2 linked regions of the Homo sapiens genome follow. The protein of the gene in region 2 purifies or fractionates together with the protein of the main gene of each other region. This does not show direct contact. Each region holds a gene or a part of one and is shown on either strand. Other genes may lie near its edges.

Region 1 (4,991 bases), on a different chromosome or scaffold from region 2:
AAATGCAAAAGATGCAAGTTCAGAAGGAAAACTATGCTTTCCTGTCTTAACATAACCTTCCCTTAACCAGGTTAAAATTTGTCACCAAAGAAGGAAAGGTAGAATCAGCTTCTAGCAAATGGTGAAGCTGACAATCTTCCCCCTCTTCATGTTCCCCGATCACACCTACCAGGCCACATAGAACTATGGACTCATCACTAGTTTGCTGAATGGACAGGGGTCCAAACAGTCAGGAAACCATCACCGTAAGGAGTCAACACAAGTGAGAGGAAATAAAACATGACTGGATAGAAAGTAATGCTGAGATTTTGGCCATGATTCCCAGGACCCAACTGGCCAACAGGAATGGCCCTGCAGAATTTCTATAAAGAGGCTGAATGGTGCAATCCAGTTGAAAGGGGATGCGGTCGATTTTTCACATTTATTTTTTACCATGACCTAGTGTAAGAAATTTATTTACCTAATCAGTATACACAAACATAGTGTGTAAAAATGAAACAAGTTTTATGAAACAATACTTACCCTTATGACGCTATGTTGCAGTACACTCTGACATTTTCTACTGATTCTATTACAATAAAAATGAAAGATCTGGTCATGACCCACTAAATTGATTTCATGACCCACTAGTGGGTAGAGAGCAGCAATTGGGGAAAAAATGGTACAAAAACCTTGTCTTGAAGCTGTGCTCTAGTCATAATTGGACTGTTTCTACATTTGGGGTGACTTGGGAAGACTCAGAGATTAGGGAGGCCGAAGCCTTAATGATGTTTAGTTTGAGAGTAACAAAAGACGAAAGTGAAGAAATCAATAACCTTTCGACTAGGGCCCTTCAACATCCCAACTGTGTATTTTTCAGAGAAAAGGGAGCTGGAAAACCAGGGTCCCTGACAGAGAACTAGGATGGCATGCAGAAAGTTAGAAAATTCCAAAAACAAGATTTAAAAAATGGTTTGGGTATTTCAAAATAAAGTACTAGATCTAAATCTCTTCACACAAAACTCTTGAGCTGGAAAATATGATTACATCATAAATGGCCTAAAATATGACCTAAAGCCAAACTGTAGTAATAATAATCTTTCTTCCTGAAATGATGGTTCCCTTATGACTGAAAAAAATAATTAAAAGAATAAAATGGCTATGTTTTTCTTCCATTACTATTTTGAAACTGCACCAAGATTAATTCATTAATTTCACCTTTTTCAATCATTTCAGGCTAAAAATGACTACATCTATACCTTATTTGGCTAACATGTGTACACAGCTAATTATAGGAAGGCTACTTTTAAGTAGGTATCTTTTTCTTTTTTTTTGTCTTTCTTTAGAAAAATAACTTCATGTAGTTTTGGAAGCCAAAAGTTAAATATTAGAAAACTAACAGTTCAGCATCAGGAATAGAAACCAGCACACATATATGGAAGGTTTGTAAGAAAGAATTACCATGGGTAAGTCAAGACTTAGTTATAACAGAAAACACAACTTACAGCAATACCTCATCACCATTTACTCTCCATTTCTTCAGGCCACTGGTTCACATTCACCACACAAAAACATCAACTGACAGACACTGAGGAAAGTGATGTGTGATGGCAGACAGTATGTGGGTCTAGGATCTTACACTATTTCAATGGTTTTTATTTAAAGTCTTCTATAGAAAAAATTACTTGTCAAATGTGCTATAAATGGTTGAGTAAGCAGAGCTTTTGAAATAGATTTAGCAAATTCAACTGCATCTCATAATGGATTATCATTAACAAGGCATGAGTTCATATGATTAGTTAATTAAGCAGAAAAAGTATAATGTCTTTGGTTGAATAAAATCAGTATTTTTTATTTATCAAACTCCAATTCCATTTCACAAATGTAAGTTATCATCAGCTCCCCATCCACTTTCTCCCATCTTCTTATCTCTTTCCCACCCTACACTTTCTCTCCCCTACAACCCGGGTTCCAAAAAGAAAAAAAAAAAATCCCTCAGCTATTTGATCTTAATATCACTGCAAAAATCAAAACCAGTGTCTCCTGCCCCCAGGACAGTGGGTATCCCCACCTGGCTGCCTCCTGTAGCTCATGCAAAATTCAACCCATAATTATAGATGCATTCTCAGTTTACGCTGCACTTGAGATTCAATGGTGACTAATGTCAAGATGGAGAGATTTGTGAATAAAAATAATTTCAACAGCAAATAGAAATTAGTTTTGTCTTATTTGTCATTGACATGGGTAATGTACAGATGGTCCCTAATTTATGATGGTTCAACTTTCAATTTTTTGACTTTACAATGGTGCAAAAGTGATATGAATTCAGTAGAAACCATACTTTGAGTACTCATACAACCATTCTGTTTTTCACTTTCAGTACAGTATTCAATAAATTACATGAGATATTCAATACTTTATTTTAAAGTAGGCTTTGTGTTAGATGATTTTGTCTAACTATAGGCTAATGTAAATGTTCTGAGCATGTTTAAGGTAGTGTAGCGTGAGCTACAACGTGCGGTAGGTTACAAGTATTAAGTGTATTTTCAATTTATGATATTGCCAACTTAAGATACGTTTATCCGGATGTAATTCCATTATAAGTTGAGGAGCATCTGTATATAACTACATACTACAAGATGACAGGTTTTCCTGATACACCCTCATGTAACAAATTATGGGTCAAGGGGGAAAACCCCCAGCAAAGAATATACTGATAACTTACAGGACCCCCCCACCCTCCACCACCAAAAAAGTGCCTTACCAGAATCTAAATGGCAAACTCAGGAAATGTTTAAGTTTCAGACTTAAAGTAGACTTTAGTCAACTCCAGAGTGGGCTACATTGTTCCCAAACTGTGCCAGTCAGGAATCCTAGAAGGGGTTCCAGACCATTATGGAGCATGTGGATAAGAGTAAGAGGGAAGTACACTTAGAAATGAAGTGTGCAAAGTGGCCAAATCCCTCTAGACCCAAAACAAAGTAATACAGTTCTGTACCTGTTTCTTTTGGTGAACTTGGAATTGGATCTGAAATTTCAAAAGATCTGAGAGGGCACGGGTGAGTTTTTCTCAATTCTACATCTTCTCAACATTAATAAAATTAATCTTCACTGGACTATTACCCCCATCTTATCTCATCCTGTTCTCTGTATCTGGAAGGTTGCTCTTCTCTGCCTTCCCCTGGTTAATTCTCACTCAATAATCGCTCCTTCTGGGAAGCCTTGGTGTGGGTGAGACACATCTTCTTGAGCTTCCATGGCACTGGGCTGAGGTCTGTCATAAAATCTGCCCCCGTGTTCTGCAAGTGTCTGTCACTGATCTGCCTCCCTCTCTGGACTGTGACATCCTCAGGGGCAGTGGAAGTGTCTAATTCATCTGTATCTCCCCAGCACCAAACATTCAGCCTGGACATAATAGACAGTTATTGAATGTACTAACAGATATGAGTAACACAACTATTATCCCTTTACTATCAAAAGCAGTCATTTTTCACGCAATCATGGCACTCATAATTAATGCCACACAAAAACTGGAAAACTTTAATATTTCTTAAGCAAAATAATGACGACAGAATCAAGGCAAAAGGATGAAGACGGAGTTTCGCTCTTGTTGCCCAGGCCGGAGTGCTGTGGCGTGATCTTGGCTCACTGCAACCTCTGCCTTCTCGTTTCGAGTGAGTGTCCTGCCTCAGCCTCCCGAGTAGCTGGGACTACAGGCGCCTGCCAGCACGCCCAGCTAATTTTTGTATTTTTAGTAGAGATGGGGGTTTCACCATGTTGGCCAGGCTGGTTTTGAACTCCTGACCTCATGATCCGCCCACCTTGGCCTCCCAAAGTGCTGGGATTACAGGCGTGAGCCACCACACCCAGCCCAAAACGTCTTTTAATAAAGGCAAAGGTTTACTTACACATATTCAAACAGAGGAAAATGCTGATGTATGTATCTTCACTGGAATGATAACTTACCCCTATAAGCCCATCCAGCTGCAAAAGCAGCTTAAATGATATAGTCCTTTTAATTTGCTAACCTAAACTAAGTCGGGTTCTTGTCCACACTGATTTGTTGGACAAAATTAAACCAACCCTGTATTAGTTTGTACTTTTCTTTGTACTTTTTCATGCTGATTCCTCTTGTCATAGTTGCTTGGATAATCTAAACATTTAGCAACAAAAGTCTAAAGTCTGGTGATTTATTCCTTTCTATGTGATGCTACTGCTCCTTCAGCAGCATCAGCTTCAGGAAAATGATGTACATTATTAAATTACTTGATAATGACAAAGTGAACTAGGATGACATTACACACACACTTTTTTTTTTTTTTTTTTTTTTTTAGACAGAGTCTTGCTCTGTTGCTAGGCTGGAGTGCAGTGGTGCTATCTCATCTCACTGCAACCTCCACCTCCTGGGTTCAAGTGATTCTCCTGCCTCAGCCTCCTGAGTAGCTGGGACTACAGACACCACACACACATTTTAAAATGGGATTTGTTGCTTGAGATTATGCCTGCTTGTCCATTCAGATGAAAAGCCCCTGCTTATGAAATGAGCCTGAGATGTCTGACAGATTTAATATCTAATATCAGTTTAGGGGAAGTGATGGAAGCTAACTTCAAAGGTCAGGGGAATATTTTGATGGAAGTTCAGAGGATTCAGTTATGTAAGTAAATATTTATGGACAACCTGAAATAAATACTGCACTATGTTCTGTATAAGATATAAATGAAACTTTTTTCTCTCTTATTAAGGTTTTAGTCATTTTCTCTTTAATTATGGTACTCCCTTGATAAGCAGGAAGGAACACTACACATATCCAGATCTCCAGTCAAAAAATGAGGCTTTCTGAAATGGTTACAGATTTTAGTAGCAAAAGCCCATAAAATTAATAACTAGCACTCATTTTTAAAACATGCACCTCCAAATTTATATTGAGAATCATAAGATGCCACAAACAATTTACTTATGACACAAAGGCAGTGGAAGGTAAATCTGTTTGTTGAAAAGTTGTAAGTAGATT
Region 2 (4,991 bases):
GAACTCTTGTATTTCCAACTTTTTTTGAGTCTTAAACTATTTCAAATTATTAAGTATTTAAAAATTAACTTGGGTCAGAAATAAACATTGAAAAGCCAAGTGAAGAAAATATTTGTAACAATTATTACTGATAAAATTTTGATGCCTTTATTAATATAAAGAACTCATACAAATCCATAAGGCAAGCACTGAATCCTTAATGAATTGAAGGAGAACTTAACAGAATAAGCACTTACCCCAGGAGAGAATTTTGTAGCTGTACTTTTGTAAGTGTATATTCAGAATTATCTGGAATCCCCACATTTCATTAATGTACTACCAGTGCTCTTGGTAACATGTAGTCTAAGAGAACTTTTTTTTTTTCCAGTGCACTATAGCTGTGTAAAGTAATTGCACCTAAGAGAAAAATAGATTAAAAGATACAAAACATCATGCAGGACATGGTCAAGGAAAAAAGGAGACAAAATAGAGCATTGTAAATTTGCATTGTTTTAAAGTAGCTTTGAGAGAATTTTGAAAGATCTTGTTCTATGTAATCTGTCCCCTCCAAAAATTCTTTTTTTCTTTTTTACAGGTGTAAATTAATTATTTGAAAGCAACTGAACAATGGAGCCAGACATCATTCGAATGTACTCTTCATCCCCACCACCATTAGACAATGGAGCAGAGGATGATGATGATGATGAATTTGGGGAATTTGGTGGGTTTTCAGAAGTTAGCCCTTCTGGTGTAGGGTTTGTTGATTTCGATACACCAGATTATACTCGTCCCAAGGAAGAGTTTGTACCTTCAAACCATTTTATGCCAATTCATGAATTCTCAGAAAATGTAGATAGCCTTACAAGCTTTAAGTCCATTAAAAATGGTAATGATAAGGACATCACTGCTGAACTTTCTGCTCCTGTGAAAGGACAGTCTGATGTTTTACTTTCTACCACCAGCAAAGAAATAATTTCATCTGAAATGTTAGCTACTTCCATTGATGGCATGGAAAGACCAGGAAATTTAAATAAAGTAGTGGAGCAGAGACAGAATGTTGGAACACTTGAAAGTTTCTCTCCAGGAGATTTTAGAACTAATATGAATGTTGTTCATCAAAACAAGCAGTTAGAGAGCTGCAATGGTGAAAAGCCTCCTTGTCTGGAGATTCTAACAAATGGGTTTGCAGTGTTGGAAACTGTAAATCCTCAGGGAACAGATGATCTGGACAATGTAGCTGATTCAAAGGGACGGAAGCCTCTTAGCACTCATAGCACTGAGTATAATTTAGACTCTGTACCTAGTCCTGCTGAGGAATTTGCAGATTTTGCCACATTTTCCAAAAAGGAAAGGATACAATTAGAAGAAATAGAATGTGCAGTTTTAAATGATAGAGAAGCACTAACCATTCGGGAAAACAATAAAATTAATAGAGTCAATGAACTGAATTCTGTAAAAGAAGTGGCTTTGGGTAGAAGCTTGGATAACAAAGGAGACACTGATGGAGAGGATCAGGTTTGTGTTTCAGAAATAAGCATAGTGACTAACAGAGGTTTCAGTGTTGAAAAACAAGGCCTTCCAACACTGCAACAGGATGAATTTTTACAGTCAGGTGTTCAGTCAAAGGCTTGGAGTTTGGTAGACTCAGCTGATAATTCAGAAGCCATTAGGAGAGAACAATGTAAAACTGAAGAAAAACTTGACTTACTTACTTCTAAATGTGCTCACCTATGCATGGATTCTGTTAAAACTTCTGATGATGAAGTTGGTTCTCCCAAAGAAGAAAGTAGAAAGTTTACTAATTTCCAAAGCCCAAACATTGACCCCACAGAAGAAAATGATTTGGATGATTCTTTAAGTGTAAAAAATGGTGATAGTAGTAATGACTTTGTGACTTGCAATGATATCAATGAAGATGATTTTGGTGATTTTGGTGACTTTGGCTCTGCCAGTGGCTCAACTCCACCTTTTGTTACTGGTACTCAAGATTCAATGAGTGATGCCACTTTTGAAGAGTCTTCAGAGCACTTTCCACATTTTAGTGAACCAGGTGATGACTTTGGAGAATTTGGGGATATAAATGCTGTTTCTTGCCAAGAGGAGACAATATTAACAAAGTCAGACCTAAAACAGACTTCTGATAATTTATCAGAAGAATGTCAATTGGCAAGAAAATCTAGTGGAACAGGCACTGAACCTGTTGCAAAACTTAAAAATGGGCAAGAAGGTGAGATTGGACATTTTGATTCTGTGCCAAATATTCAGGATGACTGCAATGGTTTTCAAGACTCTGATGATTTTGCAGACTTCAGTTCAGCTGGTCCTAGCCAAGTTGTAGATTGGAATGCTTTTGAGGATGAACAAAAAGATAGTTGTTCTTGGGCTGCTTTTGGAGACCAGCAGGCTACTGAATCTCATCATCGAAAGGAAGCCTGGCAGTCACATAGGACAGATGAAAATATTGATACTCCAGGAACCCCCAAAACGCACAGTGTACCTTCAGCAACTTCCAAAGGAGCAGTTGCTAGTGGCCATTTACAGGAATCAGCCACTTCAGTTCAGGTATTTACTAATTTTCTCTATTTTGTATGATGTATTAATTGTTGTGGAGGCTTCTAATTTCAGCTTTTCAAAAAATATTTTTTCAACTGAGTACTTGTTAAAGGAGTCTCGTTATGATGTATAATGCCTGTCTGATTTGTGGGTTGGTTACATTTTTCACAACCCTTTGGGAAACTACAAATAGTCCTATAGTAAAGCGCAGTAAGATTTTTCTTTATCTCAATGAGTTTCGTTAATATTTACAGATACTCATCAACTTGGATTTTTTGGTGACTATAAATACCATATATGTTAAAAAAAAAAAAAAAAACCCACACTTATTACCTAATTGACGGTTCCAGTCAATCCTTCAGTATTACCCTTTACAGTGATTTTAAAAGAAGGTTAAACTGAGATTTGGATCTTTTTTTTTTTAAGCTTAAGAATAGAATGTTAATTTTTTCCATCAAAGACCTAGGAAATTCAAGTACGGTTTTGATTCCAGGAGAGAACAAGCAGAATTTGAAACCTCATTCTGTGCCAAAGGCTATAGTGAATTGAAGAACAGAAAAACAACTAGAAAAAAGCAAGTTTTTCTTTTTCCTCATAATTTAGCAGCTGCTAAAAGACTTGGGGTGAGGGTATGAGATGAATTAAGGTTTAGTCCTAAAATAAGAAATAACTATAGGTTCACTTATTGTAGTTGTATTTATTTGCCTATACTTTCTTACAAATGTACTTGTTAGCTCTTCCTAGAGAGTAGGTGTGTCAGGGAGAATATTTTTACCCCTTACCTCCTATACATTATCCTTTTTTGATTCAGACTCTTTCAGAAAAGATTCATTAAGATTCACTTTGACCTAAAGTAGCCCCTAGAGGTGTAGCTTGATATCTAGGTTGTTCCCCAGTCCAGAGTTCTACTCTGTGCTAAACTTTACCTTTTTTCAACTCCAGGGGTGTGGAAGAGGGCACTCCCTTGAACCTCACTGCCTTATACTGACAATTGATATATGTAACTAACACCTGATCCACAAGCTTATTTTAAATATACTGTTAATAAACTCAGAATCTACAAACTTTATTTCTCCAGTTATCTTCTGCTAAGAAAACCATTTTCAACTGGAAATCTTTCCAAAGTCTTTGTAATTGAAATACTTATATTTCATTGCCTTGATAACTTTGAGACAGTAAGATATTAGAGAAATTATGGTATTACCAGTTGGTGTGCATAGCTAATCGCTTTTTAGTTGGCTTTTGTGTCAAAGTAGTTTAATTTGCTAATTCAGTTATTACATGGTTTAGCTAATGTGTATTATTCCTATTGAGCAGTTCATTATTTAGGCAGAACCTTGCCATTTTAAACAAGAAGTGAACTAATTATGATGCTAAATGAGGACTGTTGCTTTTGACCTAACCCTTTCCCTATTTAGTTTCATCTCACTAGAGGATAGGGTGACACTGGTATTGGGTGATCTTTAATTTGTAGCCTTAGAACTTTTAACATCATCAGATAATGAATTTTTTAAAGTGTGACCACTCAAGTAGGAATTTCTTGCATCATACAAGTTGATTGAAGTTATTTATGTATAATTTGATAACTGGATATAGGAGATAATAAAGCGTATGGGCTTCATGGAATCTGACAGATCTGAGTTTGAATTTTGACCCAGCCTCTTAAAAAGCCTTATGATTTTTGGATAGGTTACTTCTGAATTCAGCTGTATATACAAAGAAGGTAATACCTACTTCAAAGAACTTTTGTGAATATAAAAGGAAATTTTAAAATGAGTGAAATAATCTGCTAGAAAATAAGAATTTTATAGTATGATTCTTTTTTTTATAAAAATAAAACAAACTATAGATGGGGCAAGATGCATTAAGAGTTTCTGAGACCAGGTGCAGTGGCTCATGCCTGTAATCACAGCACTTTGGGAGGCTGAAGTGGGTGGATCACTTGAGGTCAGGAGTTCTAGCCCTGCCTGGCCAACATGGTGAGACCCTGTCTCTACTAAAAATACAAAAATTAGCTGGGCGTGGTGACGTGCATCTGTAATCCCAGCTACTCAGGAGGCTGAGACAGGAGAATAACTTGAACCCAGCAGGTGGAGGTTGCAGTGAGCCGAGATCACACCACTGCATTTCAGGCTAGGCTACAGAGAGAGACTGTCACACACACACACACACACACACACACACACACACACACACACAAGACTTTCTTGGATTTGTTTGGCTAAGGCCTCATGCTTCTATTTTTGCTAATGGGTTATGGAAAATGAACAGAATTTGGATGTTGGGAAAGAGAAACTGCTGGAGGAGGCCAGAAGAAGTTTGGGAAGAAAGTTGAAGTAGTGAAATGGATAAACCCTGCTGAGTAAGTGACTGAGTCAGAAGTGGAGAAAGATTGAACAAAGACTCTCGTTCTTACCCTGCTGTTGTGAAAGAGAATTGCGGCTGGCACTTTATTTCTT

The links. Proteins that work in one complex are often made in the same cells at the same time.
Region 1: the proteins of AFTPH (region 2) and DDAH1 purify together in Homo sapiens (affinity purification with mass spectrometry; one large-scale study listed by BioGRID and IntAct). This does not show direct contact.

The regions. Positions count from the first base shown.
Region 1 is NC_000001.11:85,454,138-85,459,128, forward strand, and holds part of DDAH1 (N(G),N(G)-dimethylarginine dimethylaminohydrolase 1), read right to left. Parts: intron 1-4,991. UniProt on the Homo sapiens protein: Hydrolyzes N(G),N(G)-dimethyl-L-arginine (ADMA) and N(G)-monomethyl-L-arginine (MMA) which act as inhibitors of NOS. Has therefore a role in the regulation of nitric oxide generation.
Region 2 is NC_000002.12:64,550,869-64,555,859, forward strand, and holds part of AFTPH (aftiphilin), read left to right. Parts: intron 1-236; exon of another isoform or gene 237-396; intron 397-574; 5' UTR 575-606; coding exon 607-2,541; intron 2,542-4,991. UniProt on the Homo sapiens protein: Component of clathrin-coated vesicles.